Linked DNA regions of Homo sapiens: region 1 is linked to region 2. Evidence: fine-mapped expression QTL. A gene starts in region 2. The other region holds a variant in brackets. All regions are shown on one strand. Distances are between the middles of the regions.

Region 1 (15,209 bases), 300 kb before region 2:
CAGAATAGCTACCAAGTGCTAAATAAAACAGAAAACAGAAGTTACATCTCATTATCCTGTGACTTCAGGAGTTATCATTCCCACTTGAATATGTCTTGTCATGGGAAATGACCTTCAGGAGGCATCTTCTTTGTATTTCTTACTATATGTCTCCCCACTGTCCCTGAACTATCATTATAAACTTAATTTTTTCTGCACCCAAAGCTTGTGGGAACTAGAATGAACAGAAGAGGAATGAATGAAGCCCTCATTCTTTTCAGCGATTTTCAGCTTAGGACCCAGTTTTGGAACAAGATAGACCCAAATCTACTTCCTGGTTTCCTGCTTAGAAATAAGATGCTTATCCTTTAAGGCAGATTGTCAAGCTCCTTCAATAGAGGTGAATGAGGACACCCATCATCTGCAAATCATTACATCTTCACAAGAGAATTATGATATTCTCCAAATACCATGAAACTTCAATTTTTAATCTTCTAGGGATATCAAATTAAACCAAATTTATCTCTCGCCTGAAGACAGCCTGGAGGACTGAGACTGTAATCTTGATTCCAACTCCACACCAGCCATTAGTTACATTGGGACAAATTCCTTCCCATGATCAGGCTGCAATTTTATCATTGGGAGCACTGGAGTAAATGGTTCCCTAAGATCCTTCTCCATTTTGATGTTCTAAGGATAAATTACTATTGAAGAAATTATTTCCAGTTGTTGGTTCAATCTTCAAAATCACCAAAAGCTTTGATTTTAAGGTGAGGTTATAGGAGTTGGCTCTTGATATTCTATGCCTTGTGCTTCAGAACAGGCAGTCGAAAGGGAGGAAAGTTGGTTTTCCTTGAGATGACTGTCTTGTTCCCTCATTGGTTTGGGATTCTTCATGTTCAGAGGTCCACTGAGAACTTCAGCTTACCATGACTTTCCCTCTTCAATGGTACCACTGTAGTCAGGTGTAAGATGGTGATGTGGAACCCTTCACTGACATTGCACCCAATTCTCCAGATTGTCTTTCCAGTAATTTCTTTCATTTCTCCTTCATCCCTGCGTCATGGTCCCTTTAAGGGAGCGGCCATAGTTGAGTGGTGGGAGCAGCTGCTGGCAGCAAAGAGACTTGCAGGATTTGGCCTACCCATGGCCACTTACCGCGCACGCTCAGGACCGGGGGCTTGGTGGGAAAGGAAGGAGGGACTTAGGGTGCGCCTGCGCATCAGGGGCGCGCGCAAGGGGCTGATTTGGTGATCCCTTTAAGAAACCGCAGGCGGAGGAATTTCTCTGAGAGAAAATAATCCTACTCACGGGGCCCCTTGGAGGCCATTAACCCCCCGAGTCCCGGCCCCCACCCCGTCCCCGGGCAGGCCCTCCCGCCCACGCGCGGACCCGTGGGATCTCAGAAGCTGCGGCCCGGCGCGCGGCATCCGCCCCCTCCCCACTCTCGGCGCAAGGCCCGGCCGGGTCCGGGGAAGCTGCCGCGAGGCGGCCGTGCCTGCAGTGTGGGCGGGGGCCGGGGGGCCGAGAGGTACCGCCGCCACCGCGCGGGGAGCCGCAGCGGTTCCGAGCGGGGCCCAACATGGCGGAGAGAGAGGTGGAGTCCGGCCCCCGAAAGAGGGTAGGTGAGGTGAGGCAGAACTCGGGCGGCGGGGGGCGGGGCGCGGCCCGGGGCCGGGAATGGGCCATACTCAGGTTCGTGGAGGGGTCGCCGAGGCCCAGTTAGGACAAGGTTGCGGGCAGGTCTGAGGCAGCCTTGGGTCCGGAGCGCGCTGGCGAGCGGTCCCTCGGCAGGTGGGACAAAGATTTGGTGCTGGGTGGGGGGGAGGGGAGGGGGCCGTTGTTTGCCTTCCTCCCCCCGACGTTCCCCAGCACTGGGGTGGGATATCTAGGCCCAGGGAGGGGAGGTGTCAGATTCTTAAGTGCATCTTTAGTGCATCTTTAGTACATCAGAGTCTGGAAGTTAACTGGGGAGAGGTCAGGTGGGGGTGGTGGTGGCGGGAATAAGTCGTGGAGGGGTCTCAGGAGAAATAACCGGAGGGTTCTTCAGTAACACCATCGCGAATTCATTTTCCTGCCTCCTTTCCCCTCCCCCCATAGCCGTTATCTAGACCAAAGTCGGGGTGGTGGTCTTACCTGTGAAGAAGTGGGATCGTTGGCATGTCCTGATTTAGGAGAAAGATTTTGGCTACTATGAATGTCATGTTCTAGCCTAGCCTCTTACTCGCAATTAGGGACTTGGAAGAATACGACAAGTTTTCTCATAACAGGGATGTACCCAATCAACCTGCAGAGGTGAAGCCAATTCTACATAGGAGTTGTTTGAATACCTTTTAAAGTTTGTCTGGAAACTTTCCTTATTTAATTCTGAGTGGTTTTTTTCAGATGGCGAACAATACTGTACTATCGATTGAGCAATATCCCTCACTTTTCTTTTACTTCCTCCCCGCTTAGCATGATAAGAAGTAAGTTTCCTTTTAGGAGTCTTCCTTTTGGGAATGGTTTCAGAAACGATCAATTAGCAAAAGGGCAAAAAATTACTACTTTATGAAGAATGCCCTTTCAGCTTAGCGTAAAATTAGTAATCTCGTAATGATGCTACAGCTGATGTTTTGAGTGCTTACTGTGTGCCTGGCACTGAGCTAAGACCTTTATGTGAAGAATTTAACTTCATAGTAACTCCTCCTAGAACCTATTTGCAGATGAGGAAATTTAGGTGTTGAGGGCTTAAGTAATTTACTTAGATCACACAGCTAGTTGCAAGGTTGAGGTAGGATTTGAATCCAGGTTTGTCCCAACTATAGTGCCTGTGTGGGATGCCACAGAGGAGTTTCTTTAATCTGTGTTTCTCTCCTTAAAAGCTTAAATTGTAAATGACCAAAGAAGTGTCAAGTATTATTTTTTCCAACAATTTATTAGGAAAATATTTTGAACTATCCGTCAATATTATAAAACTTACGGGGAGCAGTCATACACCCAACCGCCTAGATCCTACTGTTAACATTGCATTCCGGACATGCACAGCGGCTCACGCCTGTAATCCCAGCACTTTGGGAGGCCGAGGCGGCAGGATCACTTGAGGCCAGGAGTTCGAGACCAGCCTGGCCAACATGGTGAAACCCCGTCTCTACTAAAAATACAAAAAATTAACCCGGCGTGGTGGCGGGTGCCTGTAATCCCAGCTATTCGGGAGGCTGAGGCAGGGGAATCGCTTGAACCTGGGAGGCGGTGGTAGCAGGGAGGCGGTGGTAGCAGTGAGCCGAGATCGTGCTACTGCACTCTAGCCTAGGTGACAGAGGGAGGCACTGTCTCAAAACCCCCTCCAAAAAAAAAATTGCATTCCACTTGTTTTATCATATATTTACCCCTCTATCCCTCTTTCTGTTCATCAGTCGTGTTATTTTAATGCATTTCATCGTAGTGTTTTGAACAATAAATTTTTACCATTGATAAGTTTACGAAATGTTGGATTCACCTAATGCAATAATTAGTCATAGAGCAAGTTAAGCTGTATGATGGTATGTCCAAATAGTTTTGTAAGTATAAATGTTGTGTATGGAATGCATGTGTTTTGAAATTTTAAAATTTTCAAGTTGTGTTCAGTTTTGAACTAGATCCTTACTGTGCTTGGATGAAGGCATATGGCATATAGTCCACCAATGAAAATATACAGGGTAAATTACTTAAGATATGTAATGTTAATTCAGGGAGATTTCTGCATCCAGTTGCTGTGAATGTTGTCATTCACCTTCTGTACTAGGATGTTCTAGGATATTCTAGAAAACATTGATGTGTGTTGACAACAAATTCAACTAGATTTTAAATATATTCTGCCTCTTGTCGTACACTTAAAAGATGTTACTGGTCTTGTGAATCTTCTGCTAAAGGAATGCTGGAAAAAAAAAAAAAGATACCATACTGGTAGCAGTAAAAACTTTATTATTATTATTATTTTTGAGACAGAGTCTTGCTCTGTTGCCCAGGCTAGAGTGCGGTGGCGCAATCTCGGCTCGTTGCAACCTCCGCCTCCCGGGTTCAATTAATTCTCCTGCTTCAGCCTCCCAAGTAGCTGGGATTACAGGCAAGCACCACCATGCCTGGCTAATTTTTGTATTTTTAGTAAAGATGGGATTTTGCCATGTTGGCCAGGCTGATCTCGAACTCCTGACCTCTGGTGATCAGCACACCTCGGCTTCCCAAAGTGCTGGGATTACAGGTGTGAGCTACCGGGCCTGGCCCAAAAGTTAATTTTATTTTTAACAACCTATAACATACGCAGGACTTGTATAGGTTTCCCCCATTATTTTGCCAGTTTCATCACAGAGGAAAATTACATTCATTGATTTTTGGAATTAATGGTGTGGTGGCACATGCTTCTAGTCCTCGCTATTCAGAGGTTGAGGTGGGAGCATTGCTTGAGCCCAGGAGTTGGAGGTTGCAGTGAGCTATGATATTGCCACTGCTCTCCAGCCTGGGTGACAGAGGGAAACCCCCTCTCTAGAAAAAGTAAAAATAATACATAAATAATATTTTTTGATCCATAATTCATTTTGTTTTTGATATTTCATTAGAATGTTCGGTATGATTGTCTTAAATGATATAAGTACTTTTTTCCACTTTTTTTTGGTGTGTGCCAAATTACATGTGGATTCCATATGTATACTCCAAGCCGATTAATGGGGACTATGCAGTACCATGTCTTTGGAAATTGACTGCCTTGAGGGAGTTGAAACAAACTATCCACATAGACTTAGATAGTAACTTTAGGCTATTCAATCTGAAATTGCATTGATGACATGGTATTGTACTTAATGATGCTTACTGCTTTTGACCTTTGTAATCATGTCACAAAAAAGTTGCTAAGCACCTGTGCTATTTCATAAGCTACATGCTAGGCATTGTGCTTTGTTACTTAGGGTCATTTAGGATAATATATGCTGGCTCTCTTGATAAATTGTGAACTCCTTTAACATAGTATCTATTTCATTGCTTTTTGCGTCTGGACATCTTGTGACCTCTACACAGTAGGAACTCAAAAGACTTGCTGACTTATTTTTGTAAGAATAGCTTACCTAGTACAGCAGAGGCTCTATGGGTTGAGTACCAAGTTCTCTGCTTTGTAATTTTGAGGGGCTCTGTAAATCTTTCATAGCGTCCTTTACTCCCCAGAGTTCTCTCCTATGGATCCAGATTTAGGGATCTTCTGATTGTTCTGGATTATGGTTAGATGGGCAGGTGACTGCATTTTTTGTTGTTGTTTTTGAGATGGAGTCTTGCTCTGTCGCCCATGCTGGAGTGCAGTGGCGCTATCTCAGCTCACTGCAAGCTCCGCCTCCCGGGTTCACGCCATTCCTTCGCCTCAGCCTCCCGAGTAGCTGGGACTACAGGCTCCCACCACCATGCCCGGCTAATTTTTTGTTTCTGTATTTTTAGTAGAGACGGGGTTTCACCATGTTAGCCAGGATGGTCTCGATCTCCTGACCTCGTGATCCACCCGCCTCGGCCTCCCAAAGTGCTAGGATTACAGGCGTGAGCCACCACGCCCAGCCGGTGACTGCATTTTAAGACCATTGGGTTAACAACCTTAAATTCTAGGTAGGCCTGCCTGATGTCTTGTTTTTATATTTGTGGGCAGTCGGAACACTTGTATTCAGAATATGCTGGAATGCTAGTCTCTCAATTTGTGAACACGGGGGAGCTGAGTATGTGGGTGGATCAGCGCTATATTCATCTATCATCTCTAGTATAGAGAGAATTAAGTTCATATCCTAGTGCCTATACATGAAGGCGTTACAGCAAGCATCACACCCACACAAATACATACACACACACACACTTTAAAGTTGGCATATTATTTAATTTTTTTAGATGATAAAATTTTTGTTTTCTCAAATAGCTTTTAAGACTCATTAGGTAGGCTTATTATAAATGATTGAATTATTTATGCATGGCTATTATAATAACCAGTATGTTATGAAGTATGAGGTCTAACTAAATCGGGCGGCCATATTTTGTTGTAAAATCCTTGTCTTTTCAAAGTTTACATACAAAATAATAACTTTTGTAAATGTAAATATTACCCGGTCTAGTAAATTGTATTCATTTTCATACTTAAAATTCTGTGTGTATTAAATTTGAGATGTATATACCTGGTATGCTTAAAAAAGAGAGAAAGCATATGTATAAGTAGTATGCTTCCATTTTTTGTGAAAAACAAAACAAAACGACCTTTCTTGCCTCCCCACATTTGTGTCTGTATATGCTTGTACATGTATGAACTTAGAGAAAATTGTGGAGGACACAGTTTGGGATATTACCACTGATTACCTTCAGTGGGTAGGGAGGAGAAACGAAAGAGAGTATAAGGGTGCAAATTTCACAAAGTGGAAAAAGTATTCATGGTATAATGCTAAGTGAAAATGTAGACTATAAAATGTTATCTATTAATATATAAATCTGTGAAAATTGAACACACATATAGACAGTAGAAAATACGAACAAATGAAAGCATTGACTTCATGATGTGATGGGATATGGAGAAGTTTTATTTTGAATTTCTGTTATTTTAATATTTTATAATAAAATAATTGCAAAAGATTGATCCCTCTTAATTCCTTAATTAACTTTTTCTCTTTTCTGTCTTTTTGCTAAATGTATTACTTAAAAACATGGCGGTACATATCATTACAATATTTGCGGTTTATATGTATGCAATGTGAATAATTTGCTTT[T/A]AGAAAGTATTGACTCTTTGTTTAGAGACCATTTGAAGAGGCCATTCAAATACAGTGATTCTGCATTGTTTTCACACTGCTTCCCATCTTGTAACACACAGAGGGATCTGTAAATAATAATACTTGTGGCTGGGTACAGTGGTTCATGCTTGTAATCCTAGCACTTTGGGAGGCCGAGGCAGGAGGATGGCATGAGGCCAGGAGTTTGAGACCATCCTGGACAACATAGCAAGACCCCATCTCTACAATAAATTAAAAAAATTACCCGAGGTTTAGTAGCCTCGTCTACTCATGAGGCTGAGGTGGGAGGATTGCTTGGAGGATTGCTTGAGCCTAGGATTTCGAGATTGCATTGAACTATGATTGTGCCACTGCACTTTAGCCTGGGTGACAGAGCAAGAGAGACACTGTTTTTTTTTTTAAAAAAAAAAAAAAAAAAGGAGAGGCCATTCTAATACTGAGAATGATTCTGAGTTGTTTTCACACGCTGGTTCTTCCCATCTTGTAATAAGCAGAGACATCTATAAATAATGATAATACTTGGTATTATAAACCCTTAAGTGCCAGTCATTTTTCTAAGTATTTTACATGTGATGTATTTTTCAACCACAATTATTGTCCCATTTTATAAATTAGGAAATTAAGGCACAGAGAGATTTGCTGGAGATATGATGGCTAAATCAGGATCAATTATTACTTGAACTGGTCCTGTTCGATCATATAGGTTAGAACTTTTGTTTATCCAGAAATATTATGGTTAGTGTTTATATTCTCATTTGTAAAATAAAGCACATAATTCTTTATCTGGAATGTATGGATGTTAGAATAATTTGAATTACATTCAAACAAAGTTGATGTAAGTTACTTCTTAGGAATCATTAAGTTAACTTGTTCCCTAAGAAATACATTTTTGTTTGAGATCATCTTAAAATATGTATTCACAGCTCACATTTATTTTTTAGAAAATATACACTAAATATTTTGAAGCTGTGATTTACTTTAAAGATTATGTTTGTACTTTTTTTGACAATGGAAAGATTTTCTTTTTTCTTTTCTTTTTTTTTGAGACAGAGTCTTGCTCTGTCGCCTAGGCTGGAGTACAGTGGTGCCATCTCAGCTCACTACAACCTCCACCTCCTGGGTTCAAGCAATTCTCCTGCCTCAGTCCCCCGAGTAGCTAGGATTACAGGCGTGCACCACAATGCCCAGCTAATTTTTAGACAGGGTTTCACCATGTTGGCCAGGCTGGTCTTGAACTCCTGACCTCATGATCTGCCCGCCTCAGCCTCCCAAAGTGCTGGGATTACAGGCGTGAGCCACTGTGCCTTGCCAGAAAGGTTTTCTTACTAAAGAATATGTAAGTAGATAAATATAAAATTTCAGTTTCTATGGATACTTAAGAGGTATTTTTGAATTCTGTATTAGGAGAACAGCCACTATTTAAAGAAAAGTGATATTTCCCTTAAAAATTCTGATTATTTTACTATGAGCTAACTGTATGTACTTACTTTAGCAAAGGAGAAAGGCAAGTATTGTATAAATGTACTGTATTCAACCCAACAAAATTGCTAATACTTGACCATTTGACTTAAAAAAAAATGACACTTTTATGTGGCTTAGCCATTAGCAGGAGCATGGGTTTTTCAAAGTCAGTTTATGGTATAATCTCTGGAATTTAGCAATTTTGGGGTAGTAATAGTTCTTATCCAACCTTCTCATACCTATACCCACTTTCTTGTACTTAGGAAATATTTATATTGTTATTTTAATTTCATTCATATCATCTTTCTGGCCTCCTAGAAGCTTTAATTAGCTGCCTTTGACCAAAGATAGTCCTTTTTTTTGTTTTGTTTTGGTCTATCCAGCGTATAGAACCCAGCACTGTCAGTTCTTTGAGAACCCAGCACATATCAAGAATCATATGTGTTTTTCTTTCTTTACACTTCCCAATATGTCTTACAAATGTATTTTAATACTGACATGCATATTATACATTTATAAGCCAAAAATTAATCTACTATTCCTGTCTCATCTAACTACTCATTTCTGTCCCTCCCTCCCTCCCTCCTTCCCTCCCTCCCTCCCTTCTTTCTTCCCTCCTTTCCTTTCCTTCCTCCTTCCTTCCTTTTTTTCCATAGTTGAAATAATTTCAAAGAAATAACACACATCACATCATTTAATCTATAAATACTTCCGTGTGTATTTCTAACAGATAAGAATTTTTAACAAGCACAACCACAATACTGTTACGACCTAACAAAAGAGTTCCTTAATCCAGTCTGTGTTCAGACTTCTCTTATTCTTTAAGTGTCTTTTTACACTGATTTGTTTAAATCATCCAACTAAGAGTTACACATTTCATTTAGTTTATATGTTTCTTAAGTTTTTCTTAACCTTAATCACCTCCCCCCACCTTTTTTTTTCTTTTTGAAATGGAGTTTTGCCCTTGTTGCCCAGGCTGGAGTGCAGTGGCGTGATCTTGGCTCACTGCATCGTCCGTCTCCTGGGTTCAAGCGATTTTCCTGCTTCAGCCTCCCGAGTAGCTGGGATTATAGGCATGCACCACCAGCCTTGGCTTATTTTGTGTTTTTAGTAGCGACAGGGTTTTGCCATGTTGGCCAAGCTGGTCTCAAGCTCCTGATTTCAAGTGATCCACCCGCCTCCGCCTCCCAAAGTGCTGGGATTATAGGCATGAGCCACTGCACCCAGCCAATAATCCCCTTTCTTAACTCATACCCCCTGTGCTCCTTTCCCATGCTATTTATTTGTTGAAAAAAATAGGTTATTGTTCCAGGATAATTTTCCACATTTTGGATTTGGCTGATTGAATCCTTGTTATGGTATTTAACATGTTCCTTTACCCCTCATATTTCCCACAAATTAGTAGTTAAATACAGAGCAGTGGTTCTGAACTTTGGCTAAAACTTTAGAATTATCTGGAGAGCTTTTAGTTATCCTGATCCCTAGGCCACATCTCCGATAAATTAATCAGAGCCCATGAGGTAAAATGTCATCATCAATATTTTAAAAAATTTACCAAGTGATTTCAGTCTGTAGCCAAGATTGAGAGCCCTAGTTGGTAGAGCTTGATGAGTTTAGGTTCAGTTTCTTTGGCAAGAAATATTTATAAAGAGTGGTTATATAATTTATTTGCAATCAGACAATTTTGAGAATGAAAGGGGGTGCTATAATGATTACACAGAAGGAATAGTTTAAACTGGAATTGTTCTAGACAAATTAGGATTTATAGTCATTCCATTAGATGGGGCTGTGAATTCTTGTTGGATCGTTCTAGGAGGTAACTTAAGTGGTGGTTCTACTTTTAGTGATACTAAATGGATCATTTGGTTTAGGTTCTGTCAGTGGGATCCAAATGTAATTTATTTTTAACTTTTCACTTAATGATAATTCTTGCCTATATCCATTATTTCATTAGAAGAGTGATTTTTTTTGGTCATTTCTTTTGTATTTATTAACTGGAATTCTTTCATAAAGAATTCCCTCATCAATTATTTGGTTACCTTGTAATACGGTTTGTAAAGAAAAAGCAGGATAAATGCTTATTTTTTTCCCCTTTATCAGTAATTTTCAGAAAAATGAATTGATGCCCGCCCTCACAACTCCCAAAGGTGAGGTTTGGGAGGGAGTATCATTAGGAACTCATGAGTTTTACCATATGTGATACATTCTAATTTATCATAGTCATTATTTTTGGTGTTCAATTTGTTGTATCTTTGATGATTGGCGGTCTCTTAAATTAGTTTCCTAAGGCTGCCAAAAAACTGCTACATACTTGGTAGCTTAAAACATCAGAAATTATCTCACAGTTTTGGAGGCTAGAAGTCCAAAATCAAGGCTCTAGGGAAGAATCTTTGCTTGTCTCTTCTATCTTCTTGTGGCTTGGTTGGTATTCCTTGACTTGTGGCGGCAAAACTCCTGTCTTTGCCTTCATCTTCCCTTGGTCTTCTTTCTGCATCTTCTTTTCTGTCTCTTAGGGTCTACCTTATTCCTGGATGTTCTCAGCTCAAGATCCTTACCATAATTACCTCTCCAAAGATCTAGTCTGCTCACATACTGTGGTTCTGGGTGGACATAACTTTTGGGAGCCACAGTTTAATACACTACAGTTCTTTTTTTGACCCCTAAAACTTCATTTACATCCCATATGCAAAATAAATTCACCTCATCCCAACATCCTCAAAAGTCTCGACCTATTACAGCATGAACTCTGTTTTTTTTTTTTTTTTTTAGATGGAATTTCACTCTCTCGCCCAGGCTGGAGTGTAGTGGCAGAATCTTGGCTCACTGCAACCTCTGCCTCCTGGGTTCAAGCCATTTTCCTGCCTCAGTCTCCCAAGTAGCTGGGACTACAGGAGCGTGCCGCCATGCCTGGCTAATTTTTTGTATTTTTAGTGGAGACGGGGTTTCACTATGTTAGGATGGGCTCCATCTCCTGACCTCGTGATCTGCCCGCCTCGGCCTCCCAAAGTGCTGGGATTACAGGCATGAGCCACCATGCCCAGCTACAGCATGAACTCTTAAGTCCAAAATCTCCAAATATTATAACCTCAAAAAGTTTGAAATCTCATTGTCTTAAATCATCTAAATTAGGTAAGAGTATGGACTCGGCATGATTCATTTGGGATAAAATTCTCCATCTGTGGACCTGTGAAACTGGAAAACAACTTATCTGCTTCCAAAATACAATGATGAGAGGATGAGACAGCTGTTAAGATAGACATTCCCATTCAAAAGGAAGAAAATGGAAAGAATAAAGGATCTCCGGTTTCAAGCAAGTTCAAAACTCAGCAGGACAAATTTCTCTAGGTTTCAGGGCCTGAGAATAATCCTCTGTGGCTTGATCCTCTGCCCTCTGGGCCCATGGAGGCTCTGTCTGCAGCTGGTGTGGGCCTGTTTCTCCCCTACCCCCAACCCCCACTATGCTGCTCGCCTTCAGTCATTTTTACTTTTCCCTGAAGGGTTGCACATGTTTGTAGTTGAGTAACTGTATTAGCCCATTTCTTGCCTATAAAATCCCAGAAGTAAGACACTTTAAAAAATTTTGTCCCATCTCTGTTCCTTTCAGTACAGGCTGACAGCATTTTTGTTGGTATGATATTCTTTAAAACCTTGTCAGTCTCCTTACATATCAAGGGGGTCCATATCATTAGACGAGAGGATTCTTCACAGTTCCTTACTGATAACCCCATCTCCATTCCTCGTTTCTGTTGAGATGATTGATGGGATCCATGAGTCACACTGCTAGTATCTTCAGCATATGGTTGTCCAGCCACGTGGCCTGCTCTCTAGAACACACTTTTCTAACAGTGAATTTCCTAATTTCCGCATCCTTTGTATTCTGAATAATCTGAGAACCTCCCAGTTAATCGTTGTTTCCTTTTGCTTAAAGTTCCTTCTTCAATTTATCTCTTTCTTCTTGTATTTTACTATAAATATCAAGGAGGAACCAAGCTGTACCTTCAGCACTTTGCTTGGAAATCTCCTAGGCTAAATATTCAAGTTCATGGCTTCCAGATTCTCCTTTCTATCCCACAGTAGAACATAGTTCAGCCACTTTATAACATAGCTCACCTTTCTTCCAGTTCCCAGTCACATATTCTTTATTTACTTCTGAGACAGCAACAGAAGCATCCTTAACCAAAATATTGATATGAACCAAAATGTTCACAATTCTGTGTATGTATTCTCTAAGACTACAGAAGCTTTCTCTTAGTTGCTCATCACATCCTTCTAAACCCTAACCAGAATTGCCTTTGACATCAGTATTTCTACCACCATGTCTTTAAGGCAGTCTGTACTTTTCTAAAATCATGCATCTCAAAACTCTTTCAGCCCATTACCCAATTTCAAAGCCACCTTTACATTTTTTTTTCTCTCTTTCTCTTTCTTTTTGTTACTTTCTTTTCTTTCTTTGTCTCTCTCTCTCTCTTTCTTTCTTCCTTCCTCCCTTCCTCCCTTCCCCCCTTCCCTTCCCTTCCCTTCCTTTCTTCCCTTCCTTTCTCTTCCTTTCCCTTTCTCTTTCTTTCTCTCTTTCTTTCTCTCTTTCTCTCTCTCTCTCTCTCTCCCTCTCTCTCTCTTCTTTCTTTGTTTAAAAGTTTTTTAATAGAGATGGTGTTTTACCATGTTGCACAGGCTGATCTCGAACTCATGAGCTCAAGCAGTCCTCACACCTTGGCCTCCCAAAGTGTTGGGACTACAGGCATAAGCCATCATGCCTGGCCCACCTTCACATTTTTAGATATTAAAGCAGCACTCCACTTCCATGTACTAAAATCTGAATTAGTTTCCTGGGTTTGCCATAAGAAATTACCACAAACTTGGTGGTTTAAAATTAAAGAAATTTATCATCTCACAGTTCTGGAGGCTAAAAGTTTGAAATCAGGATGTTGGCAAGGCCATGCTTTCTCTGAAGCCTTTAGGGAAGAATTCTTCCTCCTCTCTTTGAGCCTCTGGTGGTCCCACGTGTTCCTTGATTTGTGGTAGATTACTCCAGTTTTTGCCTCTGTCTTTACATGGCATTATCTCTTTGTCTCTCTTGTCTTCATTTCTGTCTCTTCTAAGGACACTCTTCATTGGATTTAGGGCCTACTCTAATTCAGGATGATCTCATTTCAAGACCCTTACATTAACTACACCAGCAAAGAACTTTATTCCAAATGAAGTCATATTCTGAGGATCTGGGTGGACATATCTCTTGGGGACCACAATTTAACCCACAACATGGTCTTCAAGGTCGGCACCTCGATCCTTTTTAAAAATTGATTTTTTTATATTTAAAAAATCACAGGTCGGGTGCGATGGCTCACGCACGTAATCCCAGCACATTGAGAGGCCACTGCGGGCGGAACACGAGGTCAGGAGATCGAGACCATCCTGGCTAACACAGTGAAACCCTGTCTCTACTAAAAATACAAAAAATTAGCCAGGCGTGGTGGCACGTGCCTGTAATCCCAGCTACTCGGGAGGCTGAGGCAGGAGAATCACTTGAACCCAGGAGGCGGAGGTTGCAGTGAGCCAAGATTGTGCCACTGCACTCCAGCCTGGGTGACAGAGCGAGACTCCATCTCAAAAAAAAAAAAAAATTACCTTAAGTTTAAAAAAATGTGTTAAAATGTACATAACAAAGTGCAGTAAGCCAGGCACAGGAAGACAAAAACTGCATCTTGTCACTTAATGTGGAATCTAAAACAATAGAACTCATAGAAGCAGAGAGTAGAATTATAGTTACCAGAGCATGGGGGATGGAAGGGAGGGACAGGAAGATATTGGTCCAAGAGTAGAAAGTTGTAGTTAGGTGGTGTGAATAAGTATTTAAGGTGATGGATATGCTAATTTGCTTGATTCAGTCATTCCACACCGTATACATACGTGTGTATCAAAACACCACTGTGTACCCCCTTAATTTTGTGCAATTATAACTTCTCAAAAAGCAAATCATATAATAAATATATATATATATATATAATATAACATTTACCATTTTAACAACTTTAAGTGTATAATTCAGTGGCATTAAGTACATAAACAATATTGTGCAATCATTACCATTATTCATTTCACCCACAATAGAAACTCTACATGTTATGCAGTAACCCTGCATGGTCCCTTGCGCCAGCCTCTGGTAAACTTTAAATTACTTTCTGTGTCTATGAAGTTGCCTATTCTAGATATTTCATGTAAGTGGACTCATACAATATTTATCCTTTGGTGTCTGACATTTCACTTAGCATATTTTCAAGGTTCATCCAGTTATAGTATGTATCAGAACTTCTCATTCCTTTTTATGGCTGCAAAATATTCCATTGTGTGCATATACATTTTGTTTATCCATTCATCCATCAATAGACACCTTTTGGCTATTGTAAGTAATGTTGCTATAAACATTGGTATGTAAGTATTTGTTTGAGTCCTTGCTTTCACTTCCTTCTGGTATTGTGATGGTTTTAATGAGTGTCTTTTAAAATTCATGTTGAAATTTGATTCCCAATATGGCAGTATTAGGAGGTGGGCCCTAGTGGGAGGTGTTTGGATAGTGGGGACACTGCCCTAATGAGTTGTTACAAGCAAGGTTCTACCTTTTGTAAGTCTCTTTGCCCCCTTGCCTTTTTGCTTTTCCATGCTGTGGTGCAGCACATAGCCCTCACCAAAAGCTAAGCAGACACCAGTGCCATGCTTTTGGACTTCCCAGCCACCAGAATTGTGAGCTACATAAACCTCTTTTCTTTATAAGTTACTCAACCTCAGGTATTCTGTTACAGCAAGACTAAACAGACTAGTACAGGTATGTACCTAGAAATGGATTTGCTGGGTTATATAGGAATTCTGTTTATCCTTATTTATTTATTTATTCATTTTTTGAGACAGGGTCTCACTTTGTTGTCCAGGCTGGAGTACAGTGGTGTGATCATGGGTCAGTGCAGCCTCTACCTCCCTGGTTTAAGCTGTCCTCCCACCTCAGCCCCACAAGTAGCTGGGACT
Region 2 (15,209 bases):
CCTGTCCCCCTGGTGCCATCTGGCCTGGCTGGAGCCAGGAACAGGAGGGACACTTCCCCAGAATCCGCATGTTTCCCCAGTGATTACACTCCACTGCCACCGTGGTGCCTGGCTTTAACTCCCACCCCTGCTATGACTCCTCTCTGCAGAGACGCGACTGGCGGCTCCAGCAGGGACTACCTTTCTTATAAACCCAGGGGGACCACACACACACACACACACACACACACACACACACACACACACACACACACTCTTGATCCCTTGCTTCCCTCCCCCAGTGCGTTCTGTGATCGCCAAGTTCAAAGCTGTGCACATGTGGACACTCAATAAATGTTCATTGGTGACGAGAAGCCTCCTGCGTGGTCTGCCCTGCACCTGCTCTCTCCCTTCCAGGCTCCATCAGTTCACAGCTACCAGGTGCTGAACACATGCCCTGCTAAACACATCATGAGACCTCATTCAGCCCTTCCAAGAATCCTCTGAAGGGTTCTGATTTTACAGACAAAGCAACTTTGGCATGGATAAGTGATTGGCTCAAGGTGTTGCCGCTAGTCAGTGCCAGAGCCAGGACTCCACACAGGCCATCCGACTCCCCAGCCCACATCTTTCACTTGTACAGCAGATTGCCAAACTCATGTTGATGTGGCCAGGCCTTGTGGGGGCTCTGGTGCTCTCAAGTACAGATGAAACACTGCACCCCCGCCCCCATGTCACTGGGTTGCTGCCAAGTGGCCCTGCCATATCCTCCCATTTTTAAAGAAGTCAGGAATCCTAATTTGTATGTGAAACCCAACTTTTGAATGTCAGTAACTATCTTTAATTAAATAACTACTGATCCAACAAAACATGCAGTCCAAATGTAGCTTTCAGGTTACCAGCTGTTGATCCTGTATGCCAAATGAGAAGCCAGAGGGCCTGCAAGCTTCAGCAGATGAGCCAAGTACCCACTATGGGTACTTCACCAGTCCTGAGCCAAAGCTGTGAGGTTGGAGCCAGACAGGCCCCAGACCCATACCCTCCGCAACCTCCTCCACCTAGGCCCTCAAACCTATAAGCACGTGCTGAGCATAGCCTATGTGCCCACCTGTGGTTGGCTATGCATAGACAGGAATATTTATTTATTGACTGGTTGTACTGAAAGCCATCTTCTTAGCATGGATTCTCTGGGGTAAATATGAAAAGACATAGAGGCTAGGTGTGGTGGCTAACGCCTGTAATCCCAATACTTTGGGAGTCTGAGGTGGGAGGATCACTTGAGCCCAGGAATTCAAGATCAGCCTGGGCAACACAGTGAGACTCCATCTCTACAAAAGAAAAACAATTAGCCGGGCATGGTGCCTCGTGCCTGTAGTCCCTGCTACTCCCGAGACTGAGGCGAGAGGTTCTCTTGAGCCCAGGGGTTTGAGGTTATAGTGAGCTATGATCACACCACTGCATTCCAGCCTGGAAGACAGGGTGAGATCCTGTCTCAAAAAAACAAAAACAAAAACAAAAAAACTGTAAGCAGTGGCTTCTATGTAGGTCCAAACACAGTGTGGCTGGAGCATGCGAGCCCCTCAGACTGGCCAAACGATTGCAGGAAAACTTACAGCAACTATGTGCTCTGAGACTTCAGGGTGAGGAGGGGCTTGCCAGGCAGACACGAAAAGGAACAGCAAGGTCTGAAGGCATGCAAGCTTGAGAACTACGAGTAGTTTCGCATTCCATGGTGTATAGAGTGTGAAGTGTGGAGTGGTGGAAGATGAGGTTGAACCAGCAGGCATGGACCAGATCCTACTGTGCTGTGCTCAGAAGCTTAAACGTGGAATCATGCTGAGAGATCAAATTGCAGTTTTGTTTTTTTTAGAAGCAGGGTCTCACTCTGTTGCCCAGCCTGATCTCGAAACTCATGGCCTCAAGTAATCCTTTTGCCTCAGCCTCCCAAAGTGCTGGGATTGTAGGCATGAGCCACCATCCCCGGCTAGACTGCAGATTTTTTAGCAGATTGAATGTGATCCCGTTTGCATTTTGGGAAGATGAGGCACTGCAAGAGGAATGGCTGAGCCAGGGAGCTCAGAGAGGAGATGCTAAGTCTGAACTAAGCCAGTGGCAATGAGGCTGGAGAAGATACAGGTAGGAGTTAATAGGACTTGGTGATTAACTGGAAGTGAAGAGGGGTAAAGAGAAGGGGAGTAGAACCAAGGATGACTCCCAGATTCCTGATCTGGGAGACTGAGTGGATAATGGGGCATTCACTGTCACTGGGAACACTGGGACAGAGACAGATTTGTGCATACCATACACAACTCAACTTGGTAAATGGCGAATTTGTGCTGCTCATGGTATATCCAAGGGGTAGTTGCTTTCTATGGTCTGGAGCTCAAGAAAAGTCTGGGCAAGTGACAGATTTGGGAGCTGTCAGTATAGAGGGTCCCTAAAGTCATGGGAGGGACTGAGATCATCTGGGGAAGTGAAAAGAGAAGAGAAAGGTCCCAAATAAAGTGACAGCCACCCATGGTCCCTGCTGTCAGGGTGCTCTCCCTCCCATAGTGGAGAAGTCAAACCCTGCAAAGCTTCCTAATACAAGGCAGACAGAGTTCTGTGCTTAAATGAGGTATGGTCAGAGAGTTCTGGCTTGCTCTTGGTATTTCAGCGGAGTGGGGAAAAGGGAGATCTGAGCTGCAGTTGTGAGATCTAACCACGAGATGGCGCCTTGGCATCTCCTTGTGCCAGATTTCCCCACCCTGCAAACACTCAGCCTGGCCTGGAGCAGGAGGTGATCAAAGGCTGGGAGGATGAGGGTGGCTGTGTCAACAATAAATGAGGCAGATCAGAGTTTTTTCTTAACATAAAATCCAAATGCAAGCTCACTTTTTGAAAAGAGAAGGAGCCTTGGAGAAAAGCAGTATGCCAAGTGTGCCAAATGGGAGTCCACGTATGTTTGAGCATGCAACTCTATGTCAATATATGTCCCATGTTCCTATGTGTACTTGTGTTTCCCATGAATGTCTCTGTGCAAGTTGTGTGCCCCATGTTCCCAAGGCTGTCTGCATGTGTACCCCACTGCACCCCAGGCCTCCACATGTGTGCATGTGTCCCAGGGAGCAGACAACCAGAAATCTCCACCTCCATGCCTCAGAGAGTGAGGAGTCCCTTGGCACTGAAAGAAGTAGTCCTGAGTCTGAAATCATGGGACTCTGATGTTTTAGGGAGACTCAAAGCAGCAGCAGACCATGGAGAACATCCCTCTCCCCAGTAGCCATAATCAAAATCACTCACTTATCAGATGATCTCTTCAGATTATACCTGGGTTCTATGTGTAGATACCCAGGATCATGTTCACATAGAGCCTTCCTAAAGGATCCCTTAATAGGCCAGTGGATTCATAACACCATCCATTGATGTGTTTATCATTTACAGTATTTAATAAGCATTCATTGAGTTCCTGCCATGCCCCAAGCACAGCGCTAGATACATTTTCTGTTTCTCCTTTAATCTTGTGAAGCAGTTCCTGAAAGAGGAAAAGTAAGTTAGTCACAACTGCAGAGTCTGGAATGCTCATTAGAATGTTTAAACTTTTTTTCCCCCGAAGATGGGTCATGGGGAGCCCTAGGAAAGTTTTCAGTAGGGAGGTAACATGGTCCAGTCACTCTTGTGGAAGTTGGAAATTGATCAGAAGAGATATGAATAAAGTCAGGAGACCAGTTAGAGAATTGTTGCAATGGCCTAGATAGTGGTTCTTAAACTTTAATGTGCCTCTGAGTCACCTTAAGGACTTATTAATAACACAGGTTGCTGGGCTCCACCCCCAGAGTTATTGACTCAGAAGGTCATGAGTGGGATCCAAGAATTGGGACTTCTAGCAAGCTCCCAGATATTGTTGGTGATGCTGGTCCAGGAACCACTCTTTGGCTGTGTTGCCCAGGCTGGTCTCAAACTCCTGGGCTCAAGGGACCACACTTTGAGAGCCACTGATCTATGAGTAAGAGTAAGGTAGTTTAAGGTGCTGAGACAGGGTGCCATGTGCCCTCTGGGATACCTGCCTCAATTCTCCACCACATACCTTCTGTGGGTGGATGTTTAAGGGTTAGAAATGGCAACACTCCATAAGGATTAGCTTGTGGGGGTTAAGGAAAGGACCTACGCTCTTCTGGGATGACTAGCAAGTTTTGAACTTGAAAAAGGGTGGTGTCATTTATGAAACTACAGAGCAAAGGAGAAGCAGGTTGGGGTTGGTGCTGGGGATAGAGGAGATGTTGAGTTCAGTGTTGGACTTGGAAAATTTCAGACAGCTGCAATGAGATGTCTGGAGAAAATACGCAGCTGGCAGCTGTGTCTATGGGTCTGGATCTCTCACTAGTGATTCAGGCCAGAGATAACACAGTTGGGAGATAACAGTAGACAGGTAGTCATTAAAGACTTGGGCCGGGCGTGGTGACTCATGCCTGTAATCCCAGCACTTTGGGAGGCTGAGGCGAGTGTTCACTTGAAGTCAGGAGTTCGAGATCAGCCTGGCTGACATGATGAAACCCTGTCTCTAGTAAAAATACAAAAGTTAGCCGGGCGTGGTGGTGGGCCCCTGTAATCCCAGTTACTCAGGAAACTGAGACATGAGAATCGCTTGAACCCGGGAGGTGGAGGTTGCAGTGAGCCGAGATTGTGCCACTGCACTCCAGCCCAAGCAACAGAGTGAGACTCTGTTATAAAAAAAAAAAAAAAAAAGACTTGAGAGGGGATGAGCTCACTCATGAAGAGTGCAGGAAGAAAAAGAAGCTTCTCTGCTCTGAGAAAGAATTACCGACATTAAGCATGTAGGTGAAAAGAGAAACAGAAAAGAAGACAGAAATGGTCGGAGTAGGACAATGAGGCAAAAAGGGGCTATCAAAGGTGTAGGAAGTAGATTGAGAAAACCCAAGGAAGCCACAGACAGGCAGCACATCCCGCCACTCTGGCCTTCCCAAGCTGCTGGAGAGAGCAGGGGCATCCCCGCAGCTGGGCACAGGCATCATCTCCTTTGCGGCTCCTAGACTTCTCCCAGAGGAGTTCATCAATTTCTATTCACGCACTGACACCTGTCCTGGAGCTTGACTTCTGATGCCCTGTGGCTGGGGTTGAGGGAGGGAGGAACAGGGCATTGCCACAGACTCCCTCATATATAGATACACACAAACACAATCCTGATCTCTGACCCATCTCGAGCAGGAAAGTTGCAAAGCTTCCCAATTCCGCTTCATCCTCTGGAACCTCGCTGGCGGTTCCAGACTTCAGAAAGTTCTTAATGATGAATCCTTGGCTTCTAGCCTCCTTCTTTCCCCACCACTCCCCAGGCTGAGATCATCCAGCCCTGAGCTCTGCACCTGCCATGTGCCTTCTGGGATACCCACTTGGAACCATATATTCCATGAGTTAATGGTGTCACTATCACCTCCTCTTCTATATCAATAATTTTACCTTAATCTTCTCATTTACTACTTCACTAAAAAGGGACCTAAAAAAACAACTAGTCTTCTCTGCCTTCCCCTACTTTTTTATTGGTGTTGTCGAAGTTGCAGAAACTGAGATCACAGAGGAAACGGGATGTAGCTAGGATCACACAGTTAGGCAGAGTCAGGACTAAATCCAAGCCCCTGAGTCTGAGGCAGTAGAGAATAGTGATTCTGAGCAGAGAGGGGCCAGGGGCAGATCACCCCAGCTCTGCCACTTAGCTGCTTGACCTTGGGCAAGCCATTTAACCTCTCCATGCCTCACCCCTCCCCTGAAAATGGGGATGATATGGGTATCTCTTTCATAGAGCTGCTGTGAGGGTTAAAGAACCCAATATTCGTGAAGCACTTTGCACAGAGGCTGGCACATTCTGTAATAAGTCTGCTGTGATTATTTCTACTTTGCCCTGGTCTGCACATCTTGCTTTTAAAAAACATCTTTCTTCTGCTTTCTTAATTCCTGTTCTCCTTAGCATTCCTCTCATTTGTCCATCTTTAATCCCTGTCTCTGCTTGTCAGGAGGGGAGGGTTGGGTTTGGGGAGAAAGAGAGAGTGACTACAGAGACTGGAACTTGCTTGACAGCCAGGGAGTGCCTGCCATGGTAACACAGGAACATGTAGCCTGCGCATGTTAGTGTAACAATCACACGGCATCCATGCTAGTCAGTTACACACAGTCACTCAACAGTCTCTGGGTATCTCATGCCCACACTCAATCAGCCCAGGACCCTGTGGCTTCAGAAATATCTTGGCCCCTTGTCAGGTGGAGCTCATACCCAAACCCATCCCAGGCAAGTCTCTCTCTCTGTCTGGCCAGCTTCTGTCTCCAACTCCCTCAGAGCCTGGCTTGGCTTGGAAGTTTTCAGCCCAGGAAGCCTGAGAGCGAAGTGGGCACCTTCGAGGGATTTTGATCCAGAACCATTCAGGAAAGACTGTGATGGTAGACCCCCTAAACACACGCACTGACACTGTGTGCGCATGAGCAGATAGGCTGGAGTCTTCAGCTCACAAACTTCTTCCACGTTCCCGATTACCCACCTCATCCAAAGTCTCTTGAGGTGCTTAGAGAAAGGATTGATACCTATTTTACCGAGGAAGCTGAGGCCAGCGAAGAATAGTGCTTTGCTTAAAGGCAAGGATGTGATAGAGCCAGGCAAATGTAGGGCCCTTGCGTCCCAGCCTCGAATATTTCTGTTTCACTGCAGCTGCGAGCTGCGAGCCCAGAAGGCGGCTCTGATCAATGTGGGCTGAATTCACGCCCCCTACCCACCCTACCCGATCCCGCCAAAGCCACTGCCTCCCCTGTGGCAGCCGCTGGGGAAAAGGGAGAGAACTGCCATAGCTTGTCTCTTTAATGCGCGCCCCCGGAGGCCCGGCGCGCCCCCGCCACTATAACTGGAGTGCATGGAGCAGGCTACGCTCAGAGGAGGAAGGGCGGGCGCTGGGCACCCGTTGACCGACTTTTCCAAGTGCGATCAGTGCCCGTCCGTCCTGCCTCCATGGACCCGCCCGGGAACGGCCACCGCTGAGGACCCCACGCCCACTAGGATCCCGGCTGGGTCGCACCCAGCTACCGCACCGTGACCTCCGCGGGCTGTGCCGGCTCCCGGCGCCTCTGCCCGCAGCGCTCGCCGTCGGGCTAGGGCTCCGCCGCCGCCACGCCTCGCGCCCGGCACTCACCGCCCCATGCTGGTGCACACCTACTCCGCCATGGTGAGTAGTCTCGGGCCCGGGACATATTCGGCCGGGGGATCGGGGCGCCTGAGTGCTGGACTTTCCAACCCTCCTGTCCCGCGCTAACGAAATCTCGGAGGGAGGGGGCCGCAGGGACTTCGCCAGCTGAGAACGCGATGCGCAAGTGACCGCTGTCCCCAGCCTGAGGCTCCTGCGCCCGCGGGTGGCTCGGAAATAAACCTCGGGCCCCAAGAAACGGGAGGGACTGCAGCTGAACCCTCCCGAGCTGAGGAGGATCCTTTCAGGCTGGGGTCCTTTCAGCTGCCAGTGGGTCACCTAAGGCACCCCTCTCCTTCCCCAGGAGCGCCCCGACGGGCTGGGAGCAGCTGCCGGCGGGGCCCGCCTGTCGTCTCTGCCCCAGGCGGCCTACGGGCCGGCGCCCCCGCTCTGCCACACGCCGGCCGCCACAGCTGCCGCCGAATTCCAGCCGCCCTACTTCCCGCCGCCCTACCCGCAGCCACCGCTGCCCTACGGTCAGGCGCCCGACGCCGCCGCAGCCTTTCCCCACCTGGCAGGGGACCCATATGGCGGCCTGGCGCCCCTGGCGCAGCCGCAGCCTCCTCAGGCCGCCTGGGCCGCGCCCCGCGCAGCCGCCCGCGCCCACGAGGAGCCTCCCGGCCTGCTGGCACCGCCCGCCCGCGCCCTGGGCCTTGACCCGCGCCGTGACTATGCCACTGCCGTGCCCCGGCTCCTGCACGGCCTGGCCGACGGCGCGCACGGCCTGGCAGACGCACCTCTCGGCCTTCCGGGGCTGGCGGCGGCCCCCGGTCTGGAGGACCTGCAGGTGAGACCCGAGGGATCCGGGATGGGTCGGGACTGGCCGCGGTGGTTTACTACCATGGCTGGAGGCAGAAGGTGACAAATGCAGGAAGCCGACTTTTCTCCCAGCTCGCCACATCTCACTGGTGACTCCGAGGATGTGTCCCACCTCCTGGGTTAGACGTTGCCTGGCCATCAAGGCTGCCTGGCACTGAGTCCGCCAGCAGTGCGTGGGTGGCAGCAACCCTCGGCAGGGACCGAATCACTTCTTTTCTCCCCGCTGCCACGTGTGGCATCCATGGGGCAGCCTGCACCTGGGGCGAAGAGAAGCATAATAGTTACCAGTGTAAGATTCAAAATTCCCTTTTTGCACTGCACAGTGAGATGCCCAGGGCTCCAGCTCAGTGCCTGGACATAGCGATTCCTGGGCCTGCCCGTCGCCGCCCCAAGCGAAGCTGGTGCGCCTTGGGCGGAGCAGACAGAGACCCTGGGTGGCAGGGGCTTGGGAAGACATGGGCGGCTAGGGCTTTATGCGCCCTCACCGCTGCCCTCTGCTATTTGCAGGCAATGGACGAGCCGGGAATGAGCCTCCTAGACCAGTCCGTGATCAAGAAAGGTAAGGAATGGTCTGTCAGGGCAGAGCCCGGCGAGATGGTGCAGGCCCTTGGTGCACAGATCCATTTTCTTCACCGGCCGTGCCTCCTGTGTGTCGCCAGGCTGGGTGTCCACCAGGCACTCTTCCTGGCCCAGCCAGATGTTAGGCAGACGTGCGGGCTTGGTGAGTTTGCCCAGCACCCTGTGGCCTGGGGTGGGCCTCAGCGGATCAGCATTCACTGGGCTGCAGCACTGGGAGCCTGGCCTCTCCCCGCCGAGGGGGAGGGCACTCTTGTGGATCTGGAGTTGATTTGCAGAACGAGTTAAACCACTTCCCTGTTTCCCTAAGAGATGGGAATGGAAGTGCTGTTCCCACGGAGTTGGGGAAATGATTTTCACTTTACAGTGCCTTAGCATTTCGGTGCCTGGCGGGCACTTTCTTCCTCTTCCTTCCAGGCAGGGCCTTGGAGGCCTCTGGGGGAATTTTCTTTCTGTGGGAGTCTCTTGCGGCATTTAGACTTAGGGGAGCTTGTGTGTGAGTACTGTGTGTTAGGCTGTGTGCACCTGAGTCAGGGCCCACCTGCTCCTGGGTGTCTGTGTCCATGTGAGTTCAGGGTCCTGTGCATGTCTGAAATGTTCCCTTCATGGGTGTCTTAGTATTTCTTGGAGTGTGAGTGTGTCTGTTTCTGTGAATGTGTTTGTGAGGTGTGTCTCTGTATGTTGGTGTGCATTTCTCTGCATTTGGGGGATGTACACATTTCTCAATATGTACAGTATCTCTGTTGTGTCCTGCACTTTGTTCTTTGGTATCTGAGGATTTCCAAGCATGCGCGGGCCCTCTCTGTGTATATATAGGAGTATTTATGTGACTCCTGGCATTAGTAAAATCCAGGGACACGGGATCCACCTTTTCTGGCCTGAGGACCAAGTACTGGCCATGACAGGGGAAGGTGAGAGACGACAAAAACAGAGAGACAGCCAGAGAGGAGCAGAGAGTCAGAGGGGCCCAGGCATTGGGTAGCAGCCTCTTTACATTTGGGGCAGGTGCCCGAAAGAATTCAGAGGTGCACATGAGCCTGAGGTGCCCCAGGCAGGCACTGCTCCCACAGGGTTTGGCTTGAGTTGTTTTTCAAACGAGTGAATTCAAGCCTGGGCTCTATTTGCCCTCCACTTGTTCTCAGGGGAGGCCAAGGTGGAAGTGGTGGTAGCAGGGCTGGGGCTGGACTTCCAGGAGCTGGGGCTGAGTTACCAGGAGCTGGGGGTTGGGTGGATGACTTGGAGTGTGTAGCAGGGAAGATGAGGCAACAGGGCAGGAAGTGGGTGGGGGGAGGTGGAATTGGGGCTGTGTCCTGTGTCGCTTGGAACTGGGAGTGTGGGAAAGACACTAGGAACCTGGTTGCAGCGCAGCTCTGCTGGTGGGGCTTGGTTGGCTTACTGTACAGAGCCTTTCTTGACCCCTGAAGAAAGAGATCCGTCTGCAGTGGGCAAAAGCCTGCCTGGACTTCCTGGCCACCAGAAATATGAGCATGGTGGTGGTCCCCAGTTCCCTATTCATGCTTGGGCTCAAGAGACTGGGAGTCTAGGTTCACTGACTCCCTGAGAAAGACTAAGACCCTGCATTTTAGAAAGAGGTTTGGGGATCTCTGCCCTGCGCAAGGGTAGAAGGATCAGCTGTTCCTCTGAGCACCTTAACCCGGAACCCCGGTCCGAAGCCGAGACAGGAGACTGGATGCGAGGCCCTCCCAGAGCTGGTTTCTCTCAAACAACTTCCAAAACTCCTAGATCCTAGGGGTACGCCGAAATCCCCCAAAGCAGTCCAAAGAACACAACGAGAGTCCTAACATCCCAGGTGGCGGCGCGCTGGCTCCCTGGAGCGGGGCGGGACGCGGCCGCGCGGACTCACGTGCACAACCGCGCGGGACGGGGCCACGCGGACTCACGTGCACAACCGCGGGACCCCAGCGCCAGCGGGACCCCAGCGCCAGCGGGACCCCAGCGCCAGCGGGACCCCAGCGCCAGCGGGACCCCAGCGCCAGCGGGACCCCAGCGCCAGCGGGACCCCAGCGCCAGCGGGTCTGTGGCCCAGTGGAGCGAGTGGAGCGCTGGCGACCTGAGCGGAGACTGCGCCCTGGACGCCCCAGCCTAGACGTCAAGTTACAGCCCGCGCAGCAGCAGCAAAGGGGAAGGGGCAGGAGCCGGGCACAGTTGGATCCGGAGGTCGTGACCCAGGGGAAAGCGTGGGCGGTCGACCCAGGGCAGCTGCGGCGGCGAGGCAGGTGGGCTCCTTGCTCCCTGGAGCCGCCCCTCCCCACACCTGCCCTCGGCGCCCCCAGCAGTTTTCACCTTGGCCCTCCGCGGTCACTGCGGGATTCGGCGTTGCCGCCAGCCCAGTGGGGAGTGAATTAGCGCCCTCCTTCGTCCTCGGCCCTTCCGACGGCACGAGGAACTCCTGTCCTGCCCCACAGACCTTCGGCCTCCGCCGAGTGCGGTACTGGAGCCTGCCCCGCCAGGGCCCTGGAATCAGAGAAAGTCGCTCTTTGGCCACCTGAAGCGTCGGATCCCTACAGTGCCTCCCAGCCTGGGCGGGAGCGGCGGCTGCGTCGCTGAAGGTTGGGGTCCTTGGTGCGAAAGGGAGGCAGCTGCAGCCTCAGCCCCACCCCAGAAGCGGCCTTCGCATCGCTGCGGTGGGCGTTCTCGGGCTTCGACTTCGCCAGCGCCGCGGGGCAGAGGCACCTGGAGCTCGCAGGGCCCAGACCTGGGTTGGAAAAGCTTCGCTGACTGCAGGCAAGCGTCCGGGAGGGGCGGCCAGGCGAAGCCCCGGCGCTTTACCACACACTTCCGGGTCCCATGCCAGTTGCATCCGCGGTATTGGGCAGGAAATGGCAGGGCTGAGGCCGACCCTAGGAGTATAAGGGAGCCCTCCATTTCCTGCCCACATTTGTCACCTCCAGTTTTGCAACCTATCCCAGACACACAGAAAGCAAGCAGGACTGGTGGGGAGACGGAGCTTAACAGGAATATTTTCCAGCAGTGAGCAGGGGCTGTATGGGACGCGGGAGGAGCTCAGAGGAGGCGCGGAGAGTGCCCGAGGTTGGGTGAGTGCCTAGAGGGGAGATAGTTGAACCGGGTTCAAGAGGTGCTTAGTGGGTGTTTGTTGAATGAATGAGTGATGGGCTTTGAAGTCTGAGTGCATTGAAAGAGGGGGTGTGTAAAAAGGGCTCCTTTCATCACACAGGACACAGCATATGCAAATCCTCTCCCTGTGGAAAAGCCAGACAGGTTAAAAAGGTTACAAACAAATTAGCCGGGCATGGTGGTGCGCGTCTGTAGTCCCAGCTACTAGGGAGGCTGAGCCAGGGGAATCGCTTGAACCCGGGAGGCGGAGATTGCAGTGAGCCAAGATCGCGCCACTGCACTCCAGCCTGGAAACAGAGCGAGACTCCGTCTCGGAAAAAAAAAAAAAAAGTTACAAACCGTGTGTGGGTTTCAGGTTATACAATCAGAGCTGGAGGGGAGTGGTCAAGGATGAGAACTGAGATGGATCCCTCGTTCCCTCTGGAGGAGAGTGGGTGGTTGCCTACTTGGGGGTGGGGAATCCCTCTCCACGGGCTCAGCTGTCCAATCTCAGGGGATCTCTAGGACAGGAGCTGATGTAAACAGTCGCCCTATTCCTTGCTGTCTTTGGCCCTGGAGAAGGAGGAGGGAGCTGGGGAGGGTCTCCACTTCCCAGACAATCTCTAAGCAGCCAGGACATGGGTGAGATGAGTGAGATACTGACTTCTGGGACAGAATTTGAGAGGGTGCCAAAAAACTCAGTAATCAAGATAAATAGGCCGGGCGCAGTGGCTCACGTCTGTAATCCCAGCACTTTGGGAGGCCGGATCACTTGAGGTCAAGAGTTCGAGACCAGCCTGGCCAAGATGGTGAAACCCCATCTCTACTAAAAATACAAAAATTAGCCCAGTGTGGTGGCGCTAGCCTGTAATCCCAGCCACTCAGGAGGCTGAGGCAAGAGAATTGCTTGACCCAGGAGGCAGAGGTTGCAGTGAGCCGAGATCATGCCACTGTACTCCAGCCTGGACAACAGAGGGAGACTATCTCAAAAAAAAAAAAAAAAAAAAAAAAAAAAAAGAGGCCGGGCGGCGGTGGCTCACACCATGTGATCCCAGCACTTTGGGAGGCCGAGGCGGGTGGATCACCTGAGGTCTGGAGTTCGAGACCAGCCTGGCCAATATGGTGAAACCCCGTTTCTACTAAAAATACAAAAATTAGCTGGGTGGGGTGGCAGGCACCTGTAATCCCAGCTACTCCGGAGGCTGAGGCAGGAGAATCCCTTGAACCTGCGGGGCGGAGGTTGCAGTGAACCAAGATCACACCATTGCACTCCAGCCTGGACAACAACAGCAAAACTCTGTCTCAAAAAAAAAAAAAATCTTTTTTTTCGAGACACAGTTTTACTCTCTCGCCCAGGTTGGGGTGCAGCACCACGATCTCAGCTCACTGCAACCTCTGCCTCTCAGATTCTCGTACCTCAGCCTCCCAAGTAGCTGGGATTACAGGTACCTGTCACCACGCCCAGCTAATTTTTGTATTTTTAGTAGGGGCGTGGTTTCACCATGTTGGCCAGGCTGGTCTTGAACTCCTGACCTCAAGTGACCTGCCCGCTTCAGCCACCCAAAGTGCTGGGATTACAGGCGTGAGCCACCACGCTTGGCCTTTTTAAATGAAAATAGTGCAAAAATCCACGATAAACAAAATATCAAAAATTTACTGAACTTGCACTTCCACAACCCTTTCTCACCTGCCTCCCAGGCTACTCTCTGCCCCAGAAAGCAACTTAAAAAATGTGCAGATGGAGTTTGGACTTTACCTGAAAATGGTGGGAGCTATGGAAAACCTTGGAGCAGGGGAGTGAAGGATAGAAATTATATGTAAAAGAAACCCTGGGCCGGGCGCAGTGGCTTATGCCTGTAATCCCAGCACTTTGGGAGGCCGAGGCAGGTGGATTACCTGAGGTCAGGAGATTGAGACCAGCCTGACCAACATGGTGAAATGTCATCTCTACTAAAAATACAAAAAAAATTAGCCAGGCATGGTGGTGCACGCCTGTAGTCCCAGCTACTCCGGAGGCTGAGACAGGAAAATCGCTTGAACCCGGGAGGCGGAGGTTGCAGTGAGCCAAGATTGTGCCATTGCACTCCAGCCTGGGCAACAAGAGCAAAACTCCATCTTAAAAAAAAAGAAAGAAAGAAACCCTCTGGCAGTTGATGAGAAGGAAACTTAATCGGCAGGTCCCAGCAGGGGAGATGAGGAGACTCTAGGGAGGGCATTTGCACATGCTGTGCCCCAGTGTGGGCCAGGGAGCAGGTCACTACTCCTCCCGTCTACCTTCCTCTTGCTCCAACCCCTTCAAGCTTTGGACCAGTGGTACCCTAAGTGTAGTCCAAGGAACCACATGCATCAGGACCCCCAGGGGGTGCTTGTTAAAAATGCAAATTTTGGCCAGGTGCAGTGGCTCACACCTGTAATCCCAGCACTTTGGGAGGCCGAGGCGGGTGGATCACGAGGTCAGGAGATCGAGACCATCCTGGCAAACACGGTGAAACCCCATCTCTACTAAAAAAACAAAAACAAACCAAAAAAAACATTAGCTGGGCGTGGTGGCGGGCGCCTGTAGTCCCAGCTACTCGGGAGGCTGAGGCAGGAGAATGGCGTGAACCCGGGAGGCGGAGCTTGCAGTGAGCTGAGATTGCGCCACTGCACCCCAGCCTGGGCGACAGAGCGAGACTCTGCCTCAAAAAAAAAAAAGCAAATTTCTTGGGCACCACCCCACATTGACTGCATGAGAACCCCTGGAAGTATGGCCCTGGAACTTGCATTTTTTAACGATTTTTTGAGGTAAAATTTACATACCTAAAATTTACACATTGTAAGAATATAATTTGATGATTTTTAGTAAATGTAGAGTTGTGTAACCATTACCACAAAAAAATCCATTTTGAGGCATTTCTGCCATCCCCAGAAGTTCCCATTTGTAGCTACTCTCCATTCTCACCCCAAGCCTTAGGCCACCACTGATCTGCTTTCTGTCCATAAATTTGCATATTCTGGACATGTTCTATAAATAGAATATATAAATATGCAGACTTTTGCATCAAGCGTCTTTTGCTTAGCATAATATTTTTGAGGCTCGCCCCAAACATTATGCTAAGTAAAAGAAACAGCAATAAAAAGAAACAAACTATTATCAGCAGTTTGTTTCTTTTTATTGCTTCATAGTATGCCATTGTACGGGTGTAACATATTTTGTTTATCCATTGGTCAGTTGACGGGCACTTGGGTTGTTTCCACTTTTTAGCTGTCTTAAATAATGTTGCTATGAACATTCACATACATGCCTTACTATAGAAATATATTTTTAGCGCTTTTGAGTAAACTCCTAGGAGTGCAATTGCTGGATTATATGGTCGGTTTAGGTTTAATTTTTAAGAAACTGTCAAGCTATTTTCTAAAGTGGCTGTATTATTTTGCATTCTCACCAGCAATGTGTGAGGGTTCCACTTTTCCACATCCTACACTTAGAATTGTCTTTTTTTTCTTTTTTTTTTTTTGAGATGGAGTTTCACTCTTGTTGCCCAGGCTGGAGTGCAATGAGGT

Which allele goes with the higher level. Positions count from the first base shown, and alleles are read on the strand shown. Sizes are in standard deviations (SD) of each study's normalised expression.
As copies of T replace A in region 1, the expression in stomach of the gene that starts at base 6,888 in region 2 goes down (moderate effect, 0.69 SD a copy in GTEx).

What was found. PIP is the estimated chance that this variant, and not a neighbour inherited with it, causes the effect. A credible set is the group of variants that fine-mapping cannot tell apart.
Region 1: its variant is the best candidate, but not a certain one, in a credible set for the expression of TFAP2E in stomach (GTEx, PIP 0.53).

Annotation. Positions count from the first base shown.
Region 1 is chr1:35,267,486-35,282,694 of GRCh38, forward strand. ZMYM4 (zinc finger MYM-type containing 4) reads left to right here and starts at 1,224. Exons shown (of 30, transcript NM_005095.3): 1 at 1,224-1,600. The coding sequence starts at 1,562. RefSeq lists enhancers at 914-973, 994-1,053, 5,323-5,823 and silencers at 1,184-1,543, 1,614-1,743. The variant T/A (reference allele first, on the strand shown) is at 6,711.
Region 2 is chr1:35,566,427-35,581,635 of GRCh38, forward strand. TFAP2E (transcription factor AP-2 epsilon) reads left to right here and starts at 6,888. Exons shown (of 7, transcript NM_178548.4): 1 at 6,888-7,178; 2 at 7,501-7,983; 3 at 8,523-8,574. The coding sequence starts at 7,152. TFAP2E-AS1 (TFAP2E antisense RNA 1) reads right to left here and starts at 11,436. Exons shown (of 3, transcript NR_183387.1): 1 at 10,240-11,436; 2 at 7,934-8,272; 3 at 3,385-3,493. It overlaps NCDN (neurochondrin), which reads left to right. Exons shown (of 7, transcript NM_014284.3): 7 at 1-353. RefSeq lists a silencer at 3,791-3,892 and enhancers at 6,852-7,351, 7,593-8,339, 10,037-10,889, 10,890-11,742, 10,995-11,084 and 2 more.